3 separate regions of the Homo sapiens genome follow, and all the other regions are linked to region 3. The links come from fine-mapping of genetic effects on gene expression. A gene starts in region 3. Each other region holds a variant in brackets. All regions are shown on one strand. Distances are from middle to middle. Region 1 has its middle 28 kb from the start of BARHL2. Region 2 overlaps LOC105378850 (a long non-coding RNA gene). Region 3 holds the start of LRRC8D (leucine rich repeat containing 8 VRAC subunit D).

What was found. PIP is the estimated chance that this variant, and not a neighbour inherited with it, causes the effect.
Region 1: its variant is the best candidate, but not a certain one, in a credible set for the expression of LRRC8D in whole blood (INTERVAL, PIP 0.52).
Region 2: its variant is the best candidate, but not a certain one, in a credible set for the expression of LRRC8D in whole blood (INTERVAL, PIP 0.57).

The regions. Positions count from the first base shown.
Region 1 is chr1:90,740,703-90,749,043 of GRCh38, reverse strand. No RefSeq gene overlaps it. Among named protein-coding and RNA genes, the nearest start is that of BARHL2, 28 kb to the right of the region's middle. The variant A/C (reference allele first, on the strand shown) is at 4,759.
Region 2 is chr1:90,386,921-90,395,261 of GRCh38, reverse strand. All of the region lies in intron 2 of LOC105378850 (a long non-coding RNA gene), which reads left to right. Among named protein-coding and RNA genes, the nearest start is that of LINC02787, 160 kb to the left of the region's middle. The variant C/T (reference allele first, on the strand shown) is at 3,678.
Region 3 is chr1:89,817,311-89,825,651 of GRCh38, reverse strand. It overlaps LRRC8D (leucine rich repeat containing 8 VRAC subunit D), which reads right to left and starts at 4,620. Exons shown (of 3, transcript NM_001134479.2): 1 at 4,361-4,620. It overlaps LRRC8D-DT (LRRC8D divergent transcript), which reads left to right and starts at 3,858. Exons shown (of 1, transcript NR_185885.1): 1 at 3,858-5,478. RefSeq lists silencers at 3,651-3,870, 3,742-3,951, 4,042-4,141, 4,242-4,591, 5,032-5,091.

The DNA.
Region 1 (8,341 bases), 920 kb before region 3:
AAAATAAAACAAATTCACACAGCTGATAAGTGTCTGAGCCAGGGTTTGAGCCAAGGAGGCTGGGGGTAGTGTCTGTGTGCTTATTGATTGACTACACAATACTACCTCTGATTCCTCATGAGTACAAAGCTTTGAGTTTTCTCTATTTACTTTCCAGCCTGCTTCCCATGTTATCTCTACAGGGAAAGAATTACAGAGGAGCAAAGGGACAATTGGTGTCACAGCAAACAGAAACCTCAACTGTTCCAAGTCCTCATCTTCAGGAGGCCTTCTCTCTGATGTATGATTTAGTGCCTATCTAACCACCAAGGGGCCCAAAGCACTTTACAAACTAACTTTTTAGTTGTCAGTACATTAGCAAAGTGTTAGAAGGGCAGAGATTGTGCTTTAAAAATCATAAAATAAAATAAAACAAATCAACACCAAAAAATGAAATATCAAATCAACCTCGAACTCATCTCTCCTAGGTTTGAGCCTGGTTTCTCCTTCAGGCCCATTTTGTCTCATTGAAACACAGATACACGTGTCCCTTTCCACACATATTCAGATTATTCTTGGGGTCAGTCTATTTTGTCTAGATTCAGCACCGTAAGAGTTATTGGAAAATGCTATACATGTGAAGAACTGGTATGGAGATAGGGAAATAGGAAGAGAAACCTTTATCTCAACTTTACAGGTGAGGAAAGAGGCTAATGTCACATATCAACTTTTATTTTTTACTGCTTAGAGAATCTCTTTCAAGAAATTAAAATGTATTACAATCTGAAATTATTTTCATTAAGCATTTATTCTTTTGTTTTTTTAAAAATACATGATCTCTATTAGAGTTTTATAGGTCAGGGCTTCTCTTTATATACCCACATAGCACTCTATATTTCCTTCTTGTCATTTACCATAATTGCAATTAATTAATTGCATGTGTAATTGCTTATTTAGCTTTGTTTTCCCTAAAGAGAAAGTTCCATGAAAATAAAGAATGTGAGCATGGTGTTTACCACTATGTCCCCGGTGTATTTGGCACATAGTAGTAGGTGCTTATATACTTATTGAATGATGTCAATGAATGAATCAATAAAATATTTACTATTTGCTAAGTAAAAAACAGTGTTTTGTTTTGTTTCAAATTAAACATTATTTTTTAGAGCTGTTTTAGGTTCACAGCGAATTTGAAAATGCTATTTTCAAATAGCATTCCCACACACCCCCATCCTCTTACACACACACATAACCTCCCCCACTATCAACTAAAGCAGTACTTTAAATGAGAGTAAAACAGTTCTGTCTTTGGGTTCCTTGTCTAGTTTATGTCAAGTATAACAGCCGGAGAAAAAGCTGAACTGCTAATAACAAACAGGGCCTCCAGATAGTGACTTAGATAAGATAGAGATTTGTTTTTCTCTCATGGAACAATCTGACTGATTCAGATTAAACGGGTAGCTCTGTCCCATGAAGCCAGGGTGGATCTGCCATCCCCAACATATGGCTTCCAAGGCTGCTCAAGTTGTCACCATTTCCAGCTGGTAGAGAGGGTGATGAGCCAAAATCCAGCACATGGGCCCCTTCTTAAGTTGGAGAGAACACAGAAGTTGCACACATCTCTTTCTCTCATGTCCCATTGGCCCAAACTTTAGGCCCATGGTCATTTCTAGCTGTCAAAGGGCTGGGAGACCTAATTGCTAGCTAGATGGCCATGTGCCCAGAAATATGGAAAAGGTGGGTTTTGAAGGACAACTGGTGGCCTGACATGACCATGGACGAGAAATATTTATTAAGATAGCAATCCAACAAATTTCAAATGAGATGAACCAAAGCCATAAAGTTCTAATCTTAAAATATCTTAGGTTCTTCTCACCAACATGAAGCCACTTAATTGGTAACAGCAGTATTACAAGGAAGAAAAGAATGGTATGATGACAAGAGGAAGCTAGGCAGAAAAAGAACAGAATAATGCAAGGAACTGGTCTGTGGCTTATCAATCATTTGCTGAATCATGCCTTTCTTTTTGCAAGAAAAAAATGCTATAGTAGGCAGCCTCTAAGGCGCAACTCAATGATCTTAGCCTTTGATATTTGTACCCTTGGTAGCCCCCCTTGAGCACTGGGTTGGACTTATTGACTTGCTTCCAACAAATAGAATACAGCAAAGGAGATGGATATCACTTACCAAATTAGGTTACAAAAAGATTGTGGCTTCCATCTTGGGACTCCTTTCTTACACTCTCACTCATTTGCTCTGAGGGAAGCCGGTTGCCACATTGTAAGCTGCTTTATGGAGAGGTCTGTGTGGTGGGGACCTCCAGCCAACAGCCAGTGAGAAACTGAGGCCTCAGTCCAATAGTACGTCAATAACCATATAAGCAAGCTTGGAAGCTGATTCTTTGTAAGTTGGGACTATGCAGTTCTGGTCCGAAGCTTAATGCCACCTCATGAGACATCTTGACCAGCACAGACAGCTAAGTGACACCCGGATTCCTGACCCACAGAAACTGTGAGATAATAAATGTTTATGGCTTTAAGGAATGAACTTTAGGGGTAATTAGATGACTAATGCAGTGAGAGAACGAATACAGCAATTAGATAACTAACACGAATGCCAGTCACAAGAAAATGAATTCCAATTGTCCTATAATTTCCTGCTAGTAATTTTATGTAACAAGCATCTTTAAGTTGTCTTATTAACCAAGACTATAATTTACTTGTTTCCAAAGTCTGGTCTGGAAATCTCTGGGGGTCCCCAAGAGTCTTTCAGGAAATCCATGAGATCAAACTATTTTTTTTTTTATTGAGATGTTACTTACCGATTTCATTCTCATTCTTTCATGAGTATGTGGCGTAGTGTTCCAGAGGCTGCATCTATGGGATGATGTCATTGCCCTGACAGTTTATGAAATGGATGCTTGTATGACCTTGTGTTTTCTACAATTTTCTAAGGTAGATTTAGCATACAAAAATGTGCATTTTCTGAGATTAACTCAGTTATTCTCACTACTTCCTAGGCTGTAAGTAGTTATTGTCAATTATATTTGGTAAAATCTCTGTAACCTCAATGTTGTCCAGTAAATTGTTTTAAAATCCCAATGTTTTCCTTGCAACTATGCAGAGACACGACAAGAAGTACACTTCTGTTGCCTTGTTTTGCAATGATATTTTAGGATTTTCTCAGTTTTTGTTTCTAATGTAGTAAATATTGATAGATATAAACCCTCACAAACAAAATCTCTTTGAAGTTTTAATAATTTTTAAGAGTATAAAGGGAATAACACCAAAAAGTTTAAGAATTATTTGTTTAGGCTGGTGCGGTAGCTCATGCCTATACTTCCAGCACTTTGGGAAGCTGAGGCGGGAGGATTGCTTGAGCACAAGAGTTTGAGACCAGCCTGGGCAACATGGCGAGACCCTGTTTCTACAAAATTAAAAAAGTAGCCGGGCATGGTGGCACACACCTGTGGTCCCAGCTACTCGGGAGGCTGAGGTGGAAGGATCACTTGAGCCTCGGCGGTCCAGGCTGCAGTGAGCTATGATTACACCTCTGCACTCCAGCCTGGGTGACAGAGGGAGAACCTGTCTCAAAAAAAAAAAAAAATTTACTTGTTTAATCCATCAATTGACAAATGTGATTGAGCCCATATATGTGTTCAGCACTGTACTATGTGTGACATAAAAGTGTGAACGAAACCTTTGATCTTAAAATGCTTAAAATCTAATTGTAGAGATGAGACTAATTTAGGGGGTATGAGGGAGTGTTGTCTGAGGTATATACTGCAAAGCTAAATGCTGCAGTAGAGACCTTATGCAATAGAAGGGACATAAATGTACACAAAAGGGAGAGGTTGGAGGTTGGTGGTGGAGGGTAGCGGGAGGAGGTGAGAAGAGTCATTGGGAAGTGAGTAGTGCTAGAAGAAAGGCCTTTCTGCTCTCCTAATGAGAACCTCCGTGAATTTGAGAGAGAAAATATGCAGAGAAGGCATTGGGGAGATGTATCATTGAAGGGCCAGGAAAGGAAAGCACAGTCTTTGGCAACTCTGAGCCACATGTTGCTTGGATTTGGGGGACCTGCATGGGAGCTCTGTCTGTCAAGTGTATCCTGCTTGGATGGCTGACCTGATTGCCATCACCTTCACACAGCAGGCACAATTCTGATCCACATTTCTTATCACTATGAAACCTGGAATTGTGTGAACTGTAAAACTCAACTTCATCATATTAAAATCCACACCTAGACTTTTGAAGATGTTGCCAATGCTATGTGTGTGTTAGGCTCACATAGATGTTTTTCTATTTAGGGGATATGGCAGCATTTGTTTGGGGGAAAAATAAAAGGTTATTTTACTGCTTTGGGCAAAAGATGTCACTGCTTCCACTTGACCAGTAAGAATGAGAAAACTTGGGCTCTAGTCTGCCCTGTACAAATGAGGAACTTCTAGTAGCTTTAGCTATCTGACTCTCAATTTTAGCATCTGTAAAAGAGGGATATTTGCCCAATACAGCTTCAAAGACCCTCCAAATAAAAGACTTGGAGCATACGGAAAGGAAATGAAGAGACCAAACTTGGCCCCTTCAGGCAAGGAAGGTCTAGGGGCACGTGATCTGGTATAAGATACAGATAGTTCCTATGAGCTAGACTTGGTCAGATCTCCACAGAGAAAAGGGAGCTTGCTGGTAGTATTGCCCTTTGGGACTGCACAGATGACAAACACACACGCAAAATATGTACTAAAGACAATTGGCATGGGAGGTCAGTATTGACACAGGGTGACCC[A/C]CTCTTGTGAGGAACACAGTTCAAGACCCAGAAAAAGGCACATCTCTTCCCCGTTGTCCTCTAAACAGCATCTGAAACCGCAAGGGTTTTTGGCTTGTGCCACCATCTGTGTAAAAGACAGACAGTGTCGTGGGGTGCAGGGAGGATTTGAGTGGTAGAAACACTCAGGTAAGGGAAAAGACAAACTAACTTGTCAAATCCTTCCTCTCAGATAGTGTGAATGCTACAGGTCTTTTCATAATAAAGTATCATTTCCCAATAGCACCAAGTACCCATTTTCTTGCTTCTCTTTGTATTCTAGTTTGGTTCCAAAGGTACTCAGGAGATAGCACAGTATTTGCTGCAGTTGCATGGGGTAGAAAAAGAATATTTTGCAATAATTTATATCTCTCTTAAAATTGTATATGTAAGTCTGGATGTAACCTTCAGGAAGCATGATATTTATTCTTTGCATTAATGACTAGATTCTGAACCTTAGAATTGCAAGTAATTTTAGTTTTATCAAATGTTTAATAAGATGTAATTAAATTTTTTAAAAATTAAATTAAAACCTACCTTTATTTAAACTGTTTAAAAATTCTCTGAGGGCAGCATCTAAGACAATGGTTGCAACGTGATAAATAAACAGAAAGATTTATCATCTAGGATACTGGCCAATTTTTTAAAAAAATTGCATTTGTCATGTATAGCACACATTTGAATTTGTTATTAGGAGATGTGGTGTCAACCTTTTGTTTCAATAGCAATTCAAAGATGAAATACAATATTTTCCGAATCGTCCCGAAGATGAATTACTTCATTGAAACAAAGTGATGACTTTAAAATCACTCTTGGACATATGATAGAAATGCTGCTTAAATGCTGTTTAAGCAACTAAGTTTAATTTAGATAAGACACAAGACGTGCCACAAAAGTTAATTAAGCAACAGAAGAATTTCAAATAAAACGTAAGTCAGATCTTTGGAGAAAAATTAAATTTTTTTTTTTAGAGACAGAGTCTCACTCTGTCACCCAGGCTGGAGTGCAGTGGCACTATCTTGGCTCACTGCAACCTCTGCCTCCAGGGTTCAAGTGATTCTTCTGTCTCAGCCTCCCAAGTAGCTGGGTCTACAGGCACATGTCACCACGCCTGGCTAATTTTTGTAATTTTAGTAGAGACGGGGTTTCACCATATTGGTCAGGCTGGTCTCAAACTTCTGACCTCAGGTTATCCACCCACCTCGGCCTCCCAAAGTGCTGGGATTATAGGCGTGAGCCACCACACCCTGCCTGAAAAATTAATTTTTAATTGATGCTATCCACAGTTATTTGAAGTGAACTGTTTCGTGTTACTAATAATATTACCAAAAAATTAACAAAAAATTTCAAATAGATCTAAGTTTGGCTATTTCATTTTTAAAAGGGCTAAAAAGTATTTTAAAAAATTTTAGCAAAGTGTTTTTTTCTAAGTCAAAATTTATTGCAAAATATGCAACAAAAGTATTGTTCCAATAAAATGTAAGGACATTTGAGCAAGAAAATGAAAATGTTTACCTATTAAGGAGATTATTCATGTATAAATAATTACCAATAATTTATAATTTCAATAGGAACCATGTTTCTGGCCATTGTAGATCAGAGTACACAAGGTACAATCTTCGGCTTTTTTTTTTTTTTTGAGACATGGCCTTGCTCTGACACTCAGGCTAGAGGCAATGGTGCCACCATAGTGCACTGTAACATCAAACTCCCAGGCTCAAGTGATCCTCTCATCTCAGTCTCCTGAGTAGCTGGGACAATAGGTAGTGAGTCACCATGCCCAACTAATGGCTTATTTTTATTTTTATTTTTTTTAAGAGACAGGGTCTCACTATGTTGCCCAGGCTCAGAGTACAGTCCTAATTGAAGAGAAATTTGAACAAGTTAATCAATGCTAACTTTTTCCCTAATTTTTATTCCTTTATAATGACCCAACATTGGAAAATTTGAAATTAAAAACGTAAGAAACACTTTACGTATTAATATCTAGATATTCCTTTAACATAGTTATGTTAAAATAATAGTAATGCATTTGATATTAAAATAGTTTATATGTTCTGCAATAACCCTACTTTGTTACATGTGCCTGCATTACAGTTTTTGAATAATTATTAAATTCATATATAAAGTTCACTTCCTAACTTCAGTATTGGTTTAAGAATTTTATTGAGAATTCCAGTTGACCCTGCCTTAGCAGAGTGAAGTTTCTCCAAGTTGAAATGAACTGAGTATATGTATGAACTATAATGACTTTAAAAATATTGGCTAATTTTCATTAATGTCAATAGAACACATATGAAAATCTTGGTTATACCAATATAATTTGTTATTGTTTTTTAAATGAAGGCAAGACAAATTAATTTTATGTAATATATATAATAGCTAATGAATTATGTATGGCTTTATTATGCATCCAAGTGTCACCAGCTCATCAACAGAGCACCTAGACATGCACAATAATAATTAATTCAGTCATCTTTGATATTTTGCTGACTGCCAGTCACATAAAAAACATAGCTTTACACACATTTTCTCAATTTTGTCCTTATGAATATTTGTCAAGGTAAGAGACAACAATTTATTTAACAGTTTTTTACCTTTATTTATAACTTCTAAATATTTAGACATAAGATCTATAAGCCTCCATTTGTTCTCTTGCCTTGGTCCCCACAAATATTAGGAGCGGGTCCTCTGCCTGGAGGGGAAGTAGAATCAACCTTGGGTCCCACTCTCCCCTGGTGTGTCGACCTAGAGATGACACCAGAGAGGCCCTTGGGTGCAGCTGGGCAGCCCAAGTTAGGATTTCACATACCTTCCCCTTTCCCAGCAGGAGGCACATACACGTCCCTCCCCACATTCTCACTGATGTCCAACCATCTTTAACAAGAGCATAAACCTTCACAGTAACATTTAAAAATGCAAATGCACAATTAAGGTGACACCTTAATGTGAATGACTTTTAGCTGGTATAATTAGTCTTCCAGTTCCTCATCCTCTGGAATCATTCCTTAACGAAGAGTGTACTATTTCACCATGAGGTGTTCCTCATATCCAGCTGGTAATGTTTGGTTTGGAGATGGGAGAAAAGGGGAGTCGAGGAGTTGAGAGAAGTCTTAAATATAGGAAGGATTTTCCTGGCAGATTATATTGAAACTGCTTGCAGTGACACAGTGGATGGTTATTCTAACTGTGGTCAAAGGTGCTCACTCGAAGGGTAAGTAGGCACTGGAATCCAACTCTTGTTCTGCTCATCAAGCCGTATACATCGAACCCAGGCAGAGTCAGCTCAAACGGTGCACCTTTCTCTTGTTCTTGCAAAGGTGCTCTGTGGGCCAGTTGCAGCCCTATCTTCATGCTTCAGAGGACAGAATTAGGCCCAAATGTTGAAAGTTACATGGATGCTGATTTGTAGTTAGTATAAGGAAAAGATGGCTTATGAACCTCATCTCATTTAATCCTTGTAACAACCCTGAAAGGTAGGTACAATTACTGCCCTCACTTTACAGAATGAAAACTGAAGCTGATAAGCAACTTTCCCCACATTCATAAGAGGCAAACATGATAT
Region 2 (8,341 bases), 570 kb before region 3:
TCTGGAATATAGGGAAGGAGAATCGATTTTGAACAGAACCTATAGAGTTACATTAGTAGCCTAGAAGGGAATGAATTTTAGAAGGCTAAAAAATTCAGCAGTGGATAAAAGAGATAGTAGATGTCAATACATTTTAAAGATGTTTTGTATTAAATAAGACTTCTTTTAAAAGAAGTTGCAACAATTCAACAAATACTTATTGACTATTTCCACATGCCAGGTGCTGGGCTCAGCATTGGGTCTAGCAGGAAACCAACCCCTTTAACTAACCTAGGGTAAAGGTAGGTGGAACAATCATGGTCATATGTGTAGTTCATCTACTGTATGAGGCCGACCCAGAATGAATCGAAGACAGACACCAGAACAGGCTGTAAATGATCAACACTCTTCCACTTGACACTTCTTGTTCAAGTTCCTTCTTTCCAGGATCTCAGAAAAATATCAAAAAAGATTTATATCAATTCCTCATCTCCAATGTACACTTGGAGCTCTCTTTAATGACCTTGTTTCCCTCCCTATTAACATTGTGCCAACATTCACTATTACTACCTTCTTCTGTTGAGTTTTGTGTAAGTTTTGATTAGTTAGAATGGTTTTGCAATAAAGCTGAGAAATTGTCTTTTTTTCCTAACTTTAATAGATGCTGATTGCAAAGTAGATATGATTATTTTCCATTTTACAGATGAGGAAACTTGGAGATGTTAAGTAATTTGTCCAGAGTATCGGAGGTTTTTGCTGGCAGACTTAGGACTTCTGAGTTCAAAGTGCACACTCTTCCTTCTGCAACAAGTGGCACAGTGTCTTACGCAACAGTCCTTGAGGGCCTCCCTTCCTGAGGATGCAGTAGCAGTGGAACAGCAAGGCCTAAGTGCTCTGCAAACATTTGCTGCCCAGTGAGGAGGAGCTAAATCTGTCCCAAGTAGGGGTATTGTGTCTTTTTTTAGCTTTATACCTATTTTTAAGTTGCCAGCTTTTTGCTAGGCACAGTTTGAGGTCCCAATTAATAATAGGTCCAGTTTAATAATAATAATAGTAATAATGACCTCTATTTACTTATGTTATTTTGTGGCAGGAAGAGAATCAAGCACATTTCATGAAGTAACTCACTTTATTTTCACAGCAGTCCTATGAAGTAGGTATTTCTATTACCCTTGTAGGTAAGAAAATGGAAGCACAGAGAGTTTAGGTAACTTACCTAAAACCACACAGCTAGGAAGTGATAGAGCTGGAATTGAAATCTGGCAGAATGACTCCAGAGTTTTTCATCTTAACCATACCGTTCAGATCCATCATCAAGAAAATCAAAGGAAAGAGGAGATAGCCAAGTGAACAGACAAATGCCATGCAGAGTAGTAAGGACCATGATTGAGGCATACACAAGGCACTGTGGAGTTTGGAGAAAAGCAAGACCTAGGGAGAAAGTGAGGAGAATTGTCCCACGAAGAATGCAGAGAAAAGAAGATAGACCTAGGCAGTATTAGTATTCATATTTTATAGGTGAAGAAAGAGAGGCCCAGAGAGATTAAGTCATTTTCCCATTTGTAGCTGGTAAGGTGGTAGAACAAGGATTTGAACTCAGGCAGTCTGGCACCAGATTCTGTGCTCTTAGTCCCTGTATTGTGATGAGAGTAAGATAGTGAGCTAAATTTCGAGCATCTCAAATTTTAGACGACCATGGAGACATCAAATGGCAATTTTCTGTAGGCAGTTGGGCACATAATCCTGGAGCTCAGGATGGAGATCCAAATTCCTCTGCCAGCTCAAACTGGCACAACGATCTTCTGCAACAAGACAGCCACAAGCAGGCACTTCCTGTATGGTCATTTTAGGGTTCATGTCCTTAATATCCCAAGCATATTAGAAGCATGAACTTTAACAACTGATTTTTAACTAGATGCTTAATGAAATTTTAATAAGCACTGGCTGAAACCATTGGGCATCAATGGAGGGGAGAGACTGTGCTTATAAAAAATGACTCATTACCTTAGATTCTTTCTGGAATAAGGCAGTGGGATGATTAGGTAGATAAAATATTCTAGGACTCTTGCTTGTCATATGATTCTGGATACAACAAGGAGATAAGCCCTGATATGGAAAAAGGTTGGCAGAATTAGTGAGAAAAAGCTAGCCTCAAGGTGTAGGAAATAACCAAATTAAATGGGCTGCTTGCAGGCACAAGTCTACTGTGGGCTAATTTGTTTCCTGCAAAAATAAAAAAAAAACCCCTCAACTCATTTTTGTCCTCTTAAATTTTAAACAGATACTGTGTAATTGCACTTCCCTTCTCTTAAGATTGTTTTGCTTGGGCAAGAGGAGAGTGGAGGGTAAGAGGGAGGGAGAGAGAGAGAGAGAGAGAGAGGGAGGGAGGGAGGGGGGGAGGGAGGGAGAGAGAGAGAGAGAGAGAGAGAGAGAGAGAGAGAGAGAGAGAGAGAGAGAGAGAGAGAGAGAGAGAGAGAGAGAGAGAGACACATACATAAGCCCTGGGCTCCATCTTGTTGCTTATCAGGGATGCTAATAACATCCCACCTGCCAGTACAACCGGGAGATGGGTATGTTTCATCTAAGAATCTTCTCTTTGAAATATCAGTGCTTACTCTTTTTCTGAGGAAAATTCCAACTTCAATTTTCTTTCATCTCTGACTCTGTATGAGAAGCTATAGTTTAACTGCACTTAGTTGATCAATTGATTAAATATTGACCTCATTTGCTGGCTCAACCCAGACAGGATATAGAGAAAGCATGAAGCCTCTTTTTCCAGGCCACATGCTCATGTTTTCTCCATCCCTGCAGGACATTTATTCATTCACCAGATCTTTGCAGGCAGCATATTATAGGCCAGTTACTGTTTTAGTGCTGGGGAAATGACAAAGAAGAAAAGCTCACTATCTATCGAGGAAGACAGGTCCACAGGCTGTTGCAGTGCCATGTGGAAAGTACTGCAATGAGAGTAACCATAGGGTTCCATGAAGAGACATATAGGGGCATAAAACTAAGATTTGGAGTATCAGGGAAAGCTTCCTGCAGACAGGTGTGATAACGAGGCAGAGACCTGAAGGCTAAGCAGAAGTTAGTCAGGCTGAGGGGGATAAGAGGAAAGGTACAGGGCTCCAATCTATGAAAACAGCATGTACTAAAGTCTTGAGGCTAGAAGAGGGAAGGCCCAGCGGTCATACATGGCTTAATGTGCCTAGAAAGTGTGAGTAGGGAAGAAGGAAAAAGGAGTCTAGGTGGTAAGATAGATGGGCAGGAGAGGTAAACAGAAGGGTTTTGGATGACAGGCCCTATCATAAGCCTAAGGAGTTTGCTTTTTACTCTGATTGAGATAGGAACCATTAAAATGTTTTGAGCAAGGGAATGACAAGATCAGATGTGCATTGTAGAAATACTGTATTGGTATGGATAATGACTTAGAGCAAGTTTGTCCAACCTGGGGCCTCTGGGCTGCCTGTGGCCTGGGACAGCTTTGAATGTGGCCCAACACAAATTTGTAAACTTTCTTAAAACATTACAAGATTTTTTTTGCAACTTTTAAAGCTCATCAGCTACTATTAGTGTTAGTGTAGTTTATGTTTGGCCCAAGACAATTCTTCTTCTTCCAGTGTGGCCCAGGGAAGCCAAAAGATTGGATACCCCTGACTTAGAGGATGTAAGACTAGAGAAGCGTCATTGGTATGTTG[C/T]AGTGGTAATATAGATATGAGAAGATATTAGCCTGAAATAACAAAATAGCTTGGTAATGAATTGCTTTGGGGGATTAGAAACAGGGAGAAACCAAGGGTCAAGGATGGAACTATGGTATAGTGAGGCTGTGAAGAGGGCTCACTGTTCCCTACCCTGAAGATGTCTGCAGGCCACACTTCTTTTGTTTGCTGCTTGCAGAGTTTTAAGCAACTCTTGGAAAAACAGACTGTGTAATCTATTTGTTTCCCATTCCCTCACTCCATGCTACCGTGACTCATTCAGCCAATTCATTGTCTGTAGTCTATGCCTTTGAGAAGCTTGCAGACAATTAAACAAGTGATTAGAAAACCATACCAGATTACATCAACATTTTAGGGCAGAAGCATGGAGAATCTAAAGGGTTTGCATGCTCTGAAACTTACTTTGGCTTCCATGTTCAGAAGAAAGGTAGGAAAAAATACCTTAATGCAAAATGAAACATTCCTGATGGTTGAATTCACATTTGTATGACAGTATCACAAAACATCTTGCTAGCAAATTTTCCTAGGAGTTCTAGATACACATTCCCAATTTCTTTCTAAAAATCTTGATATTATGTTCTTTAGATACATCAAACTTAGCATTTCCAAAAACATCTTATGAACTTTTCTTCTGTATTCCCATTCTTGGTGAATAGTGTTACCATCTATTGTCACTCAAGTTAAAAGCTTCAAAGACAACCATAATTTCTGCTCCCTCACTGTACACACCCCTTCTCAATTTCAACTTGGGCAGGAAGACTTGCCAAGTCAATATACAAAATATATATTAATATCCCCACTGCCCTAGTTCAAAATGGCACAAATTTTTCCCTGAACATGCCACAGTTGTAGAATGGTCTCTCAGAGCCTACTTCGTTTCCTACACTCTCATCACAGTACTTCTTCAGTAAGCAGCTTACATTATGTCATAACTGAAAACCACACCCAAAGCATAAAGTCTCCACACCCAAAATATAAAGTCAAAACTTTTTAACAAGGTTCTTCACAGTCAGACCCCAAATTATGTTTATAGTCTCTCTCCCCCGGACTGTGAGCTCCCCTAGGGCAGAGGCTATGCTTTATTCATCTTTGTAGACTGTCTAGCACAGTGCATAACACATAATACTTGCTCAATAAATGTTTGCTGAAAGAATAGGGCTAGAAATGTGGCACCTTCCCATATATGTATTTACTTCCTTTCAAGTTAAAATAGTCCATGGTGTGTTTTGTTGCAGGCAACATGACTGCAGCACAATCAACTATGGCTTTGCTGATCTCGTGTATCATCATCCTCATCATCCTCATCCCCGCAATTGCAGCAAACGTCCAGTTGTGCACTTACTGCTGATGATGAATAAATGTATAGAACAGGAAAAAATGTATCTCACCTTCAGACAGAAGGTTGCACTCACATCCTTAGCAGTTATAAACAAGGCTTAAAAACAAGACTGAGTTTACATGAATGATTTGTTTTTAGACTGAGGGCTATATGATTGCTTTGGTAGTAGTGGTCCCTAATGGAGCTATGTTAATTGGCATCTGGGTTAGAAAAGAAAAATTAATATGGCCCTCAGAGGCAAGAACTGGGGCTCGTCTACATTTAGTGGAATCTTTCAGAGCCTCTTTAGAGGGGCACACACCCTAGAGAGGATGATGAAGACAAAAATTTTGAATGTTGGAAAAAAATTGTGTTTGAAGAATAAATTACATAGAACATATATGTGTGTGTGTGTGTGTGTGTGTGTGAGGGAAAGAGACAGAATGGGAAATGGTCAGTGAGGGATGTACCAAGTTACAGTATCTTTTTTCACCCATTATAAAAGAAATACATGTTCATGTTAGAGATCTTGAAATAAATAAAAGAAATTTATGTTTATTTTAGATATCTTAAAATAAATTTAAAGAAAAAAATCAAATAGTAATCCCAACATTCAGAATAACAAATGTTAATGTTTTGGATTATTAACTTCCAGTCTTTTTGTATGGTTGTGTAACTAGTATAACATACTGTTAAAGACTACAAGCCTCTGTCATTTAATAGACATAGTGTCAAGTTCCAGTATAGCCACTTCCTATTGAAAGGTTATTTAAAATATTAAAGCCTCAATTTTTCCCAGTAAAATGAAGATGAAGATGATGGTAATAATAATAAAAAGTAATCCATAGGTTTGTTTTTAAGATTAAATAAGATAACATGCATAGAGTGCTAAGCTTGGTGCCTAGAGCATAGACTAAGTACATAATAAAAGTTAGGTAGTTTTTTTTTATTTTAACAAAACGAATTTTATGCTCTCTCTGTGTGTGTGTGTGTGTGTGTGTGTGTGTGTGTGTGTGTGTGTGTGTGTTTCTGTAGTTTAATCTCTCCCATATCCTTGATTATTTTCTTAGGATGAATTGCTGGAAGTGGAGTTACTAGGTCAAAGGGCATGTATATTTGACGATTCTTGATACCTAGTACTGAATTGTCCTCCAAATAGGCTGTACCAATTCATCCACCCTCTGGCTTCATATGAGAAGTCTCACTTCTCACCCATACCAACAATGGGCATATATAGATATAGATATATAGATATCTTGCCAATTTAGTCGGCAAAATACCCTTATTTTAATTTATTTAATAATTTATAAATATTATAGTGTCATTTGAAGCCACAACCCTCTGGGACTGATTAAATAGATGAGAAGTGCCCATTATATAATATGCTAAAGAAGCTGGTTTTATCCTACAGAAGATAAGATCAGAGGCGAAACTTCATGACTATCTTCAAGGATATAAGGAGGTTTATGTGAAAGCATTGTTTTCCATGTTATAAGTAGTTAACTAAACAAGAGAAGCTGGGCTATGATTAAAATAGTTTAAACTTCTCTTGAATGCAAGGGCAGAACTGCCACTTTCAACATGACAGAGTACTAGGAAGGTTCTGAGAAAGATCTTGGGGTCCCTGAAGCTGTAATGACCAGCACGGTCACTTTTTTGCCTTTGGTGGGACATCCAGCTCCCTGAAGGGAATGGGCACACCACCTGATTTATTTGGTCTCTTCCAGTTCTGTGATTCTATAGTTAATTTAGTGAAGTGTTGATTTTGTGATATTTTTGAAACTAGAAAAGATGGATTTATTCCAATGCATCCATCAGGTGACATTTTCGAACAGATAAATTAAGCTCTGTCTAGAAACCATCTCTCCTGTTACAAGTACAGACAAATGCAATGCAGTTCCTGCCATCAACCATCTTATTAGAAGCAGATTAATAACTAGCGATGATGACTACAGCCTTTTTTAAAAAACAGAACTTTCTGTATTTTTTCGTGCTCGGGCAGTGTTTTACGGAAAGGTGTATTTACTGTGAAGAATGTTTAATGGCAAAGCACATAATGAAGAAATAAATGAGTACAAAAAATGATTTTTTTGTTGTTGTTGCTGGCCAGTCTACTCCAGCTCTTCCCCCTGGATTCTTTCACACAAAGAACACGTTGTTATTGGAGCCATTACAGAGCTCCTCGGCTTTGCTAGGCTCTGCGGGGCTCGAGGGAAATGGCTACAGATTGCAGCAGAAAAGTCCATCAGACAGATCACATGTGACCCCACTGTTTCCAGGAAAGAATGCACTGGAACACTTCAGCTGAATAGACAGATTTTCCAAATGTTTTAAATCAGTTTTGAGACAAAAAGAGGAAGATGCTAAGAAATGGGTTTGGCCTATACACATTCGACCACGCAGTGTCCATTTCTCTGGAATGCAGACATTAGGGGCTTTCATGTGGATGGGAGGACCTTAAGGGGAAAAAACCCCAGCCCACCACAACAATTAAGCAACAATTGAAGAAAAGCAGGGAAGAAAAGATGGCCCTGTGTTAGTACAATAGCTCAGGGGCTTTTCATTTTGGGGCATAAAGACAGAACAGAGAATGTTGTTTTCTTTTTAAAGCCCTTTTAAAAATGGTAACTGCATCCTGCTCTTGTAGATGTATTACTTATGACATCCCAGTTTTCATCCGTTCATGATTTTACATTAGAGTTAAATCTCTGCAGCTTGAATCTCACGGCTGAGTTAGCCAGAGCCCATAAAATATTGAAACCTTTAGAGCAGCAGCCAGCCAGGTTGAGAGAAGTTCATGTCCAAAGCTGAGCTTTAGATTCTGAGACATCCCAATTGGAGTGTAGTACAGAAAAAAGCACTGATAAAATTTTCATAAAAATGAGCTAAGGATATTGCTAGCATGCTTCTCAGCATCTATATGAAAACTTAATCTGAGCTAATGGAAAGGATATGAAAGCCTTTCTCAATTCAAACATAGTCAATGCATGATTCATAAATTATTGTCAGAGAAGTGATTCAGCTCCCAGATTTATTCTCTTTTGGGTGGAAGCAACCAGAGGAAAACTGGGTTTTTTTTGACCTTTAATGCCAGCAAATTTTACAGTAGAGCTGTCAGTATAACCAAGTAAAGTGGTCATTTCTCCAAACAGCAACAAAATACCCACATATACCCAGTGCGAGCTAATATTAACTTGGCCTACTAGGTTACTGGCAGTACATTCAGAGCAGCAAATACCAAACATCTGAGCTTATCTGGCTATGCAAGATTGAATGAAAGCTGAATGTGGCCATGTCCACATCATCCACAGTAATTTGTATGAAA
Region 3 (8,341 bases):
GTTTGCTTCTAAACCTCAATCCTCTCTCCTTCTCTAAATATAAGGCTGTCACTAAATATTTGAGGCATATTAGCAAAAAAGAAAACAAAGCTTAGCCTGAGTGGGAAACAAGTCCATAGTTGATTTTTGCCAGTTATCCTATCTTCTCACAAATTTCAAAAGCAACTCTAACCCTGCAAGCTTCAGATTTGCACAAAACATTAGAAACTCTCTTCCAGATACATAAACAGAACTACAAAGACCCAGAGGAAGGAATTCAGATTTCAGAAGCTTGCAACAGACTTGAACAATTTCAAAATGGTACCCCAGGTGCAAACATTTCAAGAGCTAAATGCCATGTGGCCTGGCATTTAAATTTCTCAGAAGCCCCCAAAATAAGGGCTAATTAGCCCTAGAACTCACCTCCATCACTCAGTGATCTCAGCTCTCATATAGGACCAATAGAGCCCCCAAACTACTGAGTTTTACATAGTACTGACTACAGTTTTCAACAAAGTCATCCTCCATTCCTCTCTGATATAATTAGAAGACATAAATTCAAAAATGTCAAAGGCTAGAAGACTGGATCAAAATAAATAGGATAACATTGAGAAGGAACAACAACAACAAAAAAAACTTCTCCAAAAAAATCTGCCCAAGAAATACAGGATGCAGCAGCTCACAGAGCAAATATCTGGGGGTTTTGACTATCCAAAACATGATTATCTAATAAAGAAGTTTGTGCTCGGCACTGCCTAAGAAAATCATAGGCAGTTGTAAGCTTAAGGTGCAGTAAGTAGACATTTATGCTTAGGTCTCAGCAAACAGCTGTCTTACTGTACTCTCTGTTGGCCAGATCACATCTCAATTACATATTCAATTCCAGATTCTCCATGTGAGATGCCGATAAACTGAGAAGACATCGAGAAACCACATCCCAATAAAAGACTGTGAAAAGAATTGGGACTAGTTTGCATTAGCAAAGTCAACTGGGGGTAAGGGGACATCATATTGTCTTGGTGCATTCAAAGAGAGTAGGCAGCTCCAAAAGAAGAAAATCATTGGAAAAAAAAATTCAAGGAGACAGTCTTCAGCTCAAGTAAAAATACAACAAACAGTCCAAAGGTGTAATAACCTGTCTTCAGGAGAAGTTCACGGTTCCTGGGGTTAAACAAAAGTTACCTAGAAAGGGTAAGAATTTACTAAAATAAATAAATTGGATAGGGCCCCTCTAAAATGCCAATTCTGATTTCAATGATTCCCAACTTACTCCACTATCATACTGTGCTCATCTGCTATGATCTCCCTCCAAACTGCCCCTTTCTTTCAATAAGGATTTGCCCAGACCCTAATCACATCAGACCTGAGCACAAGTCTCCTACATCAGCTTCCTAAGCTCAATGTTATTACTCCTCCCATGTCAAGAACCACCTCCCTTCAAGACCTATTCTGAGATCTAAGGGCAGGCACTATCGCCATTTTGGACAGGATCATTCTTTGTTTAGGAGGAAGGGGGTTGATGTCCTGTGCACAGTAGGATGCTTATGTATCATCCCTGTCCTCTAGCCACTAGATGACAGCAGCACCTGCCACCTCGCTATGATAACCATAAATGTCTCCGACATTCCTCAATGTCTGCTGAGAAGCAAAATTGCCTACTTCTGAGAGCCACTGGTCTTGAGGCAAATGATTAACACCACTGACTTGTGGTTAAGTTTTTCACGAACTAGGTTCCCTCTACCCTCCTTTATTAGTCGTATATTCTGTTCCACATCCCTGACCACTGTCAAAAGTCAATTCAGATTTCCACTCCTCCCTCAGCATACTTCATAAACTTTTATCTGGTTCCACACACCCTGGATTCTTAGACAACTGTAACTGTCTGCTTCTGCTGGCATCCTCATGTGTGCCTGTCTTATCTGCTCTCTGTGATTACTACGAGAATCCTCTCCTGCCTTGTTAAGATCCCACAGCACCCACTCCAGTTCTCTGCTTCCTGCTGGCACTCAACAAATATTAACTGGTGTTTCTTAGAATGTCAAACACCAGCTCCAATTAAAAATAACTGAAATCTCTTACAAGCTACCACTTCAACAACATAATAATCATGATTACAAAGTTTTGACAAACTTTTGACTTTAATAGCTATTTTGTCTACAGTACTGAGAACAGAATCGAGTCTAATTTCCAAACTATAGCTACCAAAACAATTTAACTATTTGGACATGACAAACACATCAGAATTTTCTAAAATTAATTTTTAAAAATGCTGCATAATATAAAAATTAAGGGAAAAGGGGCCTAGTTTTTTTCTTTTTTCTTTCCATTAAACTTTAGCGATTTTGAGAAAAAAAGGGCCAAGTTTTGACCATGTTTTTTAAATGCTGGAAAACACAGCAGGGAGAAAATGATATGAATATGGCTCAATACTTTAAGTGTTGCATCATATGCTACTCCACATGGTAATGGAAGGCTGGGTCATCTAAGGACAGTTTCCTCTCCAACCTTCTAATCTGTTAGGTTTTAATCAACACGCACACATACACTCTCAATAAAAACGAGACAAATCTAACATAGTGTTCAAATATATAAATAAACTGTGCCAATTCAAGATTTTGGAATTTTTCCCTGGCTCCATAGATTACCTAATCATTTTATGGGGGGCTCCATAAGTAACCTACAGAGACCAAACACCCCAAATCAACTTTTCGTGACCCCTGTTTTAACCACCTAATTTTCATCTCAGATTCCTCCCCATCTTGCACTTGGATTTTAACAGGGATTTAGTTAGTTGGTGTCAAGACAGATGAAGCAAGAACCCCAACTCTCGCCTAGCTGACAGTAGGTGTTTGGTCACTATTTTTGGACTGCAAAAATAAATGCTGCCTGAGGACCCCATTTACAGGATATGGTGCAGGGTTCTTCCCACAGGTCTGTAAGAAGCAGAGGTCCCAGATGCTATGGCGAGGAAGGTCTGATCACTCTCATTCTTGGCACTGGGAGGGGCCCCTTATTTGTTTATAAGGTAGACAGCCCTCATCATTACTGCAAACGGGGATTCCCTGCCTGTCCAGACTCTTCCAAAGTCCGGTACAAACCACGTAATAGGTGCTCAATAAACGCTGCCTGTACGGAATTTTACTATCAAAGCTGCCAAGGAAAGTTTCCAGAAATCAGCTCTTCCAAAATATGTCCTCAGAGTTTTCTTTGTCCAACAAAAAAATATTTTTGAAGATCCAAGAGCAGGAAATCTGCGAGGCAACGAGGAGCCAAATATAAGCCAAGCGGCTCCAGCTGGGCCCCACATTCCGCTAGGACTCCCCAGTACCTATTCCCCATCTCTCCGCCTACATCCTGAGTGCGCCCTCCCTCTCATCTCGGCTGTTTCCTTCCCACAACCCTACCTCCATACTTTCGGCCACACACACCCCAAGTGCGTGCTCCTGGAACCTCACAGCCCACCTCTCCCTCTCCAGCAAGGACCTACCTCTCTTCCCCTCGACCTGCAGCAGTTCTTCTTCACTGCAGCTGGCTTTTTAAGAAATCAAAAAATCTCATTTATCTGCAAGGGATACCCCCTAGTAAAGGGTGACGGAAAGGAGAAGGCCCCTATCAACCCTCCAGTAACTGGAGGTGCTGGTCCTCCCGGCAACCACCCCCAATTCTCCTCCTTTTCAAGCCCCTGGACAGGATTTGAGCAGAAGTCCCGCTCCCAAGAGCCCACGCCTCCAAACAAGCTAGAAGCGGATTATACCGGTACCCAACCCGGAGACGGCCCGCGGACGGCTGGGTGCACCTGCGGGCCCCCAGCTCCCTCCCACAGGCGCGGGGGGCGGGGCGCGGGCCTTCACCTCCCCGCCCCCGCCCGCCGGGCTCCCAGCGCAGCCCACCCTGCACAGGAAGGAAGCGGAGGGGAGGCGATTCTGGAGAAGTTAAAGGGCTCACCTTTGGACGCCGGGCCAGCAAGGCCAGACACCAAACACCCACCTCCGGGAGGAACCAGCAGAGCCGAAACCGGCTCTCCCCGCCTTTCCGATAGGGCGGAGGGAGGTGAGAGAAGGGAGCGCGCGCGAGGGGTTCAGGAGCCAGGAAGCCGCACTCCCCTCCCGCAGGGCCGGCCGCCCGGGGCCGAAGCGGCCGACGCTCAGACTGCAGAAAGCGGAACAATCTCCCAGGCCCTGGCGGCAGCAAACGGGAGCCCACTCCGCTCGCCGCCACCTCCTCCCGACCCCCGGACGTCCCCGAATGAGTTCCCGGCCGCAACCGCAGCTCGGGCCGCGGCGCCTGCGCCAGGGTTGCGCGCTCCGGCTCGGCGCGGCTCCACCTGCGCGTCGCCTTCCCTCGCAGCCCCCGGCCCCTGCCGGGAGAGGTGCGCACCAACCTTGGGGTGCAGCTCGGCCGCCAAGCCACGGCTTATGCTGAGGCCGGAGGTGGCGGCATCACCCGCGGCGGGCGGCGGCTGCACCGGGACGCGCCGGGGCGGCGAAGGCGCGCTGCACCCTGGACCCTGCTCCCGCGGCCCCGCCCGCGGCTGCCACCTCGAAGCGCGGCGGAGGAGCCGGGGCACCACGGGCGGCGGCAGCGGCAGCGGCAGCAGCGGCGACGGGAGCAGCAGCACATGACTCTGTAACGAGGGGAATTAGACAAAGCGTAACATGGACTCCGGGCCCGTGCAGGCGCTGCAGCTCTGGGACCAACCGCAGCCGGCGAGTGCCGCGACTGGCCCGGCCGCAGCCAATGGGGCGGGCCCGGGCCTCCATGTGATTGCGAGCGCTTTCTCCGGTGGCCCTGCAGCGCCTGACCGGACGGGGTCTGTGTGGCGAGGGAGGGGACCCGGGGTTGGAGACTGGCGGCGAGCGACTGCTAGATGCGGAGCAGGTGCTTGGGAGGGGAAGAACGGCAGCCTACATAACCATCGCCGTAATGCTCTCGCAAGCGTCCACCTGGGCAGGGCTCGGTGCCGGGCAGGCGCAGCTGCCAGTTAGCTGCGAGGCATGGTCAGGAGCCTTCACCCGTCCTGGGCGAAGGAGGCTGTCCCGTCGACTAAAACTCTGATATTAAGACTTGGCGCTGGGGGTGGGGAGTTGAATTACGTTAAAAAGTCACTTAAGTGCCTTCCAACTCTAAGGAGAAGTACTTATCTGAGCTTTGGGGCACACACAACTACTACTTGGCATGGAGAGTTTCTCAGCTTCATGTGTTCCGTCTGTTATTGAAGCTGTATTGGAAAGTCGGTTCTTGTTTTTATCTGAGCCCGCCGTTTTCATCCCATTCTTTTCGTCAAAAATATGTTACATCTGAAAGAGGCAGATGAAAAGATTATTCTATGCTAAGAGGGTTTTGCAGCCCGATAATGTCACCGTTTTTTGTTGTTGTTGTTGTAGGATCGGGGTTCATTTGCAGTCTTTTTTGTGGGTGAGCAGAGGCAGGGGCCAATAAATAAATTAAGGCGGGATATTTGGAGTTATTTGGTTGTAATAAAATATGTGGTTCAACCCAGTGCTTTCATATCTTCTTTTATCTGAATCCATGTGTTTCTGTAAACCATCGGAAGTCTAATCTGTCTTCTACCAATATCTCTCCATGTCAGCAAATGTTCAATCAACGTTTACCCAGCATCTAAATATTCTTAATAAGCATGCTGCACAAATGTTACAGGTACTCAGGAAGGTGTCGGTTCAGAGACAGTGAGACATTAAAGAGAATGATTGTCCAGGGTTTCAGAAAAGGATTCAGAGAGGAGCTGATAGAATTGACCCTTGGATGGTGAGCACTTGGCCCTCAGGCATTGGACGTGAAGAAGAGCAGCCCAAACAGGAACATGAACAGAGAGGTCCAGAATACACTCAAGGGACTGCCCGAGACCCGTTACAAGATGCCACCAGATTCTGAGCCCTCGGCCCTTTTGCTCTCACTTTCCTTCCCCGACCCTCCTTGCCAGCAGCCACTCCTGTTCCACACACTGCCAAGAAGGAGGTGTATGGGCAGGGAGTGTGTGTAAGTGATCTAATCAGTGTCAGATTTGCTGATCTAAGAGATGAGAGGTCTTTTAAAACTTAACAACTAGTGGTGTGATATTTTTATTGAAAACAGCCCACTATTATAATGAATATGGAATGTTTTGCTGTTTGTAAAAAAAAAAAAAAATTATAGGCCGGGTGCAGTGGCTCACGCCTGTAGTCCCGGTACCTTGGGAGGCCGAGGCAAGAGGATCACGAGGTCAGGAGTTAGAGACCAGCCTGACCAACATGGTGAAAACCCGTCTCTACTAAAGACACAAAAATTATCTGGGCATGTTGGCACGCACCTGTAATCCAAGCTACTCAGGAGCCTGAGGCAGGAGAATCGCTTGAACCTGGGAGGCGGAGGTTGCAGTGAGCTGAGATGGTGCCACCACACTCCAGCCTGGGCGACAGAGTGAGACTCCATCTCAAAACCAAAAAACCAAAAAAACCAATCTTCTGTACTTTGTTCTTTTGATCTTCCCTGGGTTTTAAATTGTGATTCTAGACTTGAAAAACATGATTTTAAGATTGGTATAAATCGAGAAAAGAAAAAAGTGATATTCAGAAAACAGTCAAATGTGGAGAAATAGACACTCACACACTGTAAAAGTAAGAGGAAATTGGACAAACCCCTTTGGAGGACAATTTGGAAATTTTTGATAAATAGGTGTGTTCCCTTTGAATAGGTAAGTCCATGTCTAAGAGTTTGTGCTTTAAGCATATTTGTGCAAAAATTATGTCAGAAATATTTACACATGTACAAAAATATATATATACGTGTCTTATTGCAACATTGTTTGTAATAGTGGGAACATGTAATGGTGTAAAAATCAAATAATAAAGTCCCAGTAGGAAACTGTTTAAGCAAATTTTGCTAGATCTGTAGAAGGAAACCATAAGCAGCCATTAACAAAAATAAGCTAGATCTATTTGTACCTACATGGAAGGATGTCCAAAATCTATAAGTGAAAAAAAAGGAGGCTGCAGAACAATATGAATAGTATGATTCCATTTTTTTGTACTTTTTTGCATTAAGATATACATGTTATTAAATGTATGCTTCAGAAGAAGTCTGGAAGCATATATAACAAGCTGTTAATGGTGATTATCTCTGGGTGTGGGATTACTAGGGCCTTTCATCAAGTTCTGTATGTTTGAATTGTTTTTATATTGAGCACATATTACTCTGATAATCAGAATAATAATTTTAAAAATTTAAAGGATTGTTTTAGAGTATATTCAGGCTATTATAACAAAATACCATAAGCTGGGTGGCTTATAAGCAACAGAAATTGGCTGGGCATGGTGGCTTATGCCTGTAATCCCAGCACTTTGGGAGACCTAGGCTGGAGGATCACCTGAGGTCAGGAGTTCGAGACCAGCCTGGCCAACATGGTGGAACCCTGTCTCTACTAAAAATAAAAAAATTAGCTATGAGTGGTGGCAGGCACCTGTAATCCCAGCTACTCGGGAGGCTGAGGCAGGAGAATCACTTGAACCCAGGAGGTGGAGGTTGCAATCAGCCAAGATCATGCCAGTGCACTCCAGCCTGGGTGACAGAGTGAGGCTCTGTCTCAAAAAAAAAAAAAAAAAAATTTTTATTTCCTATAGTCTGGGGGCTAGGAAGTTCAAGGCAACAGCAGATTCCACGTCTGTGTGTGTGTGTGTCTTCTTTCTAGTTCAGAGAGGGTGACTTCTTGCTGTGTCTTCATATAGTGGAAGGAGTGAGGGTCTCTCTCAGGCCTCCTTTTTAAGGCCACTAATCCCATTCATGAAGGCTCTGCCATCATGACCTAATCGCCTCCCAAAGGAATGACCTCCTAATACCATCAGTTTAGGGGTTAGGATTTCAACATATAAAATGGAGGGGCGGGGGACGCAATATTCAGACTATAGCATGGATCAAACTAGTAAGAAGTCTACCAATGATAAGTAATGAAAAATAACTCTGATTATCTATGATGTAAAAACAGAAACAAAAAAATCAGCCCATCAGTTTCCCCTTTTCCACAAAAAAACAGAACGGAGGCAGCAAAGGACAATAACTGATTTGATGTTGGGTTCAGAATTAAGAAATATGATGGAAAAGGAATCTGAGGCTACTCTAGACATATCTACAGAGAAACACATGGCTTCTAGGAAGTTCTATTCAACAAAAAATAGAGCACTTACTATCCTTTGCTACTTGTTATGAGAATTGGCAACTGTTTCAGCACATGGTAAATCTGTATCAACAATAACAACTAATACTTACGTAGGTCCTCTTCCAAATACTTTACACATACCTTAAGTCTTCACAGCAGCCCTATGAGATACTATCCTCATCTAATAGATGGGAAACAGAAGGCTTTAAAGAG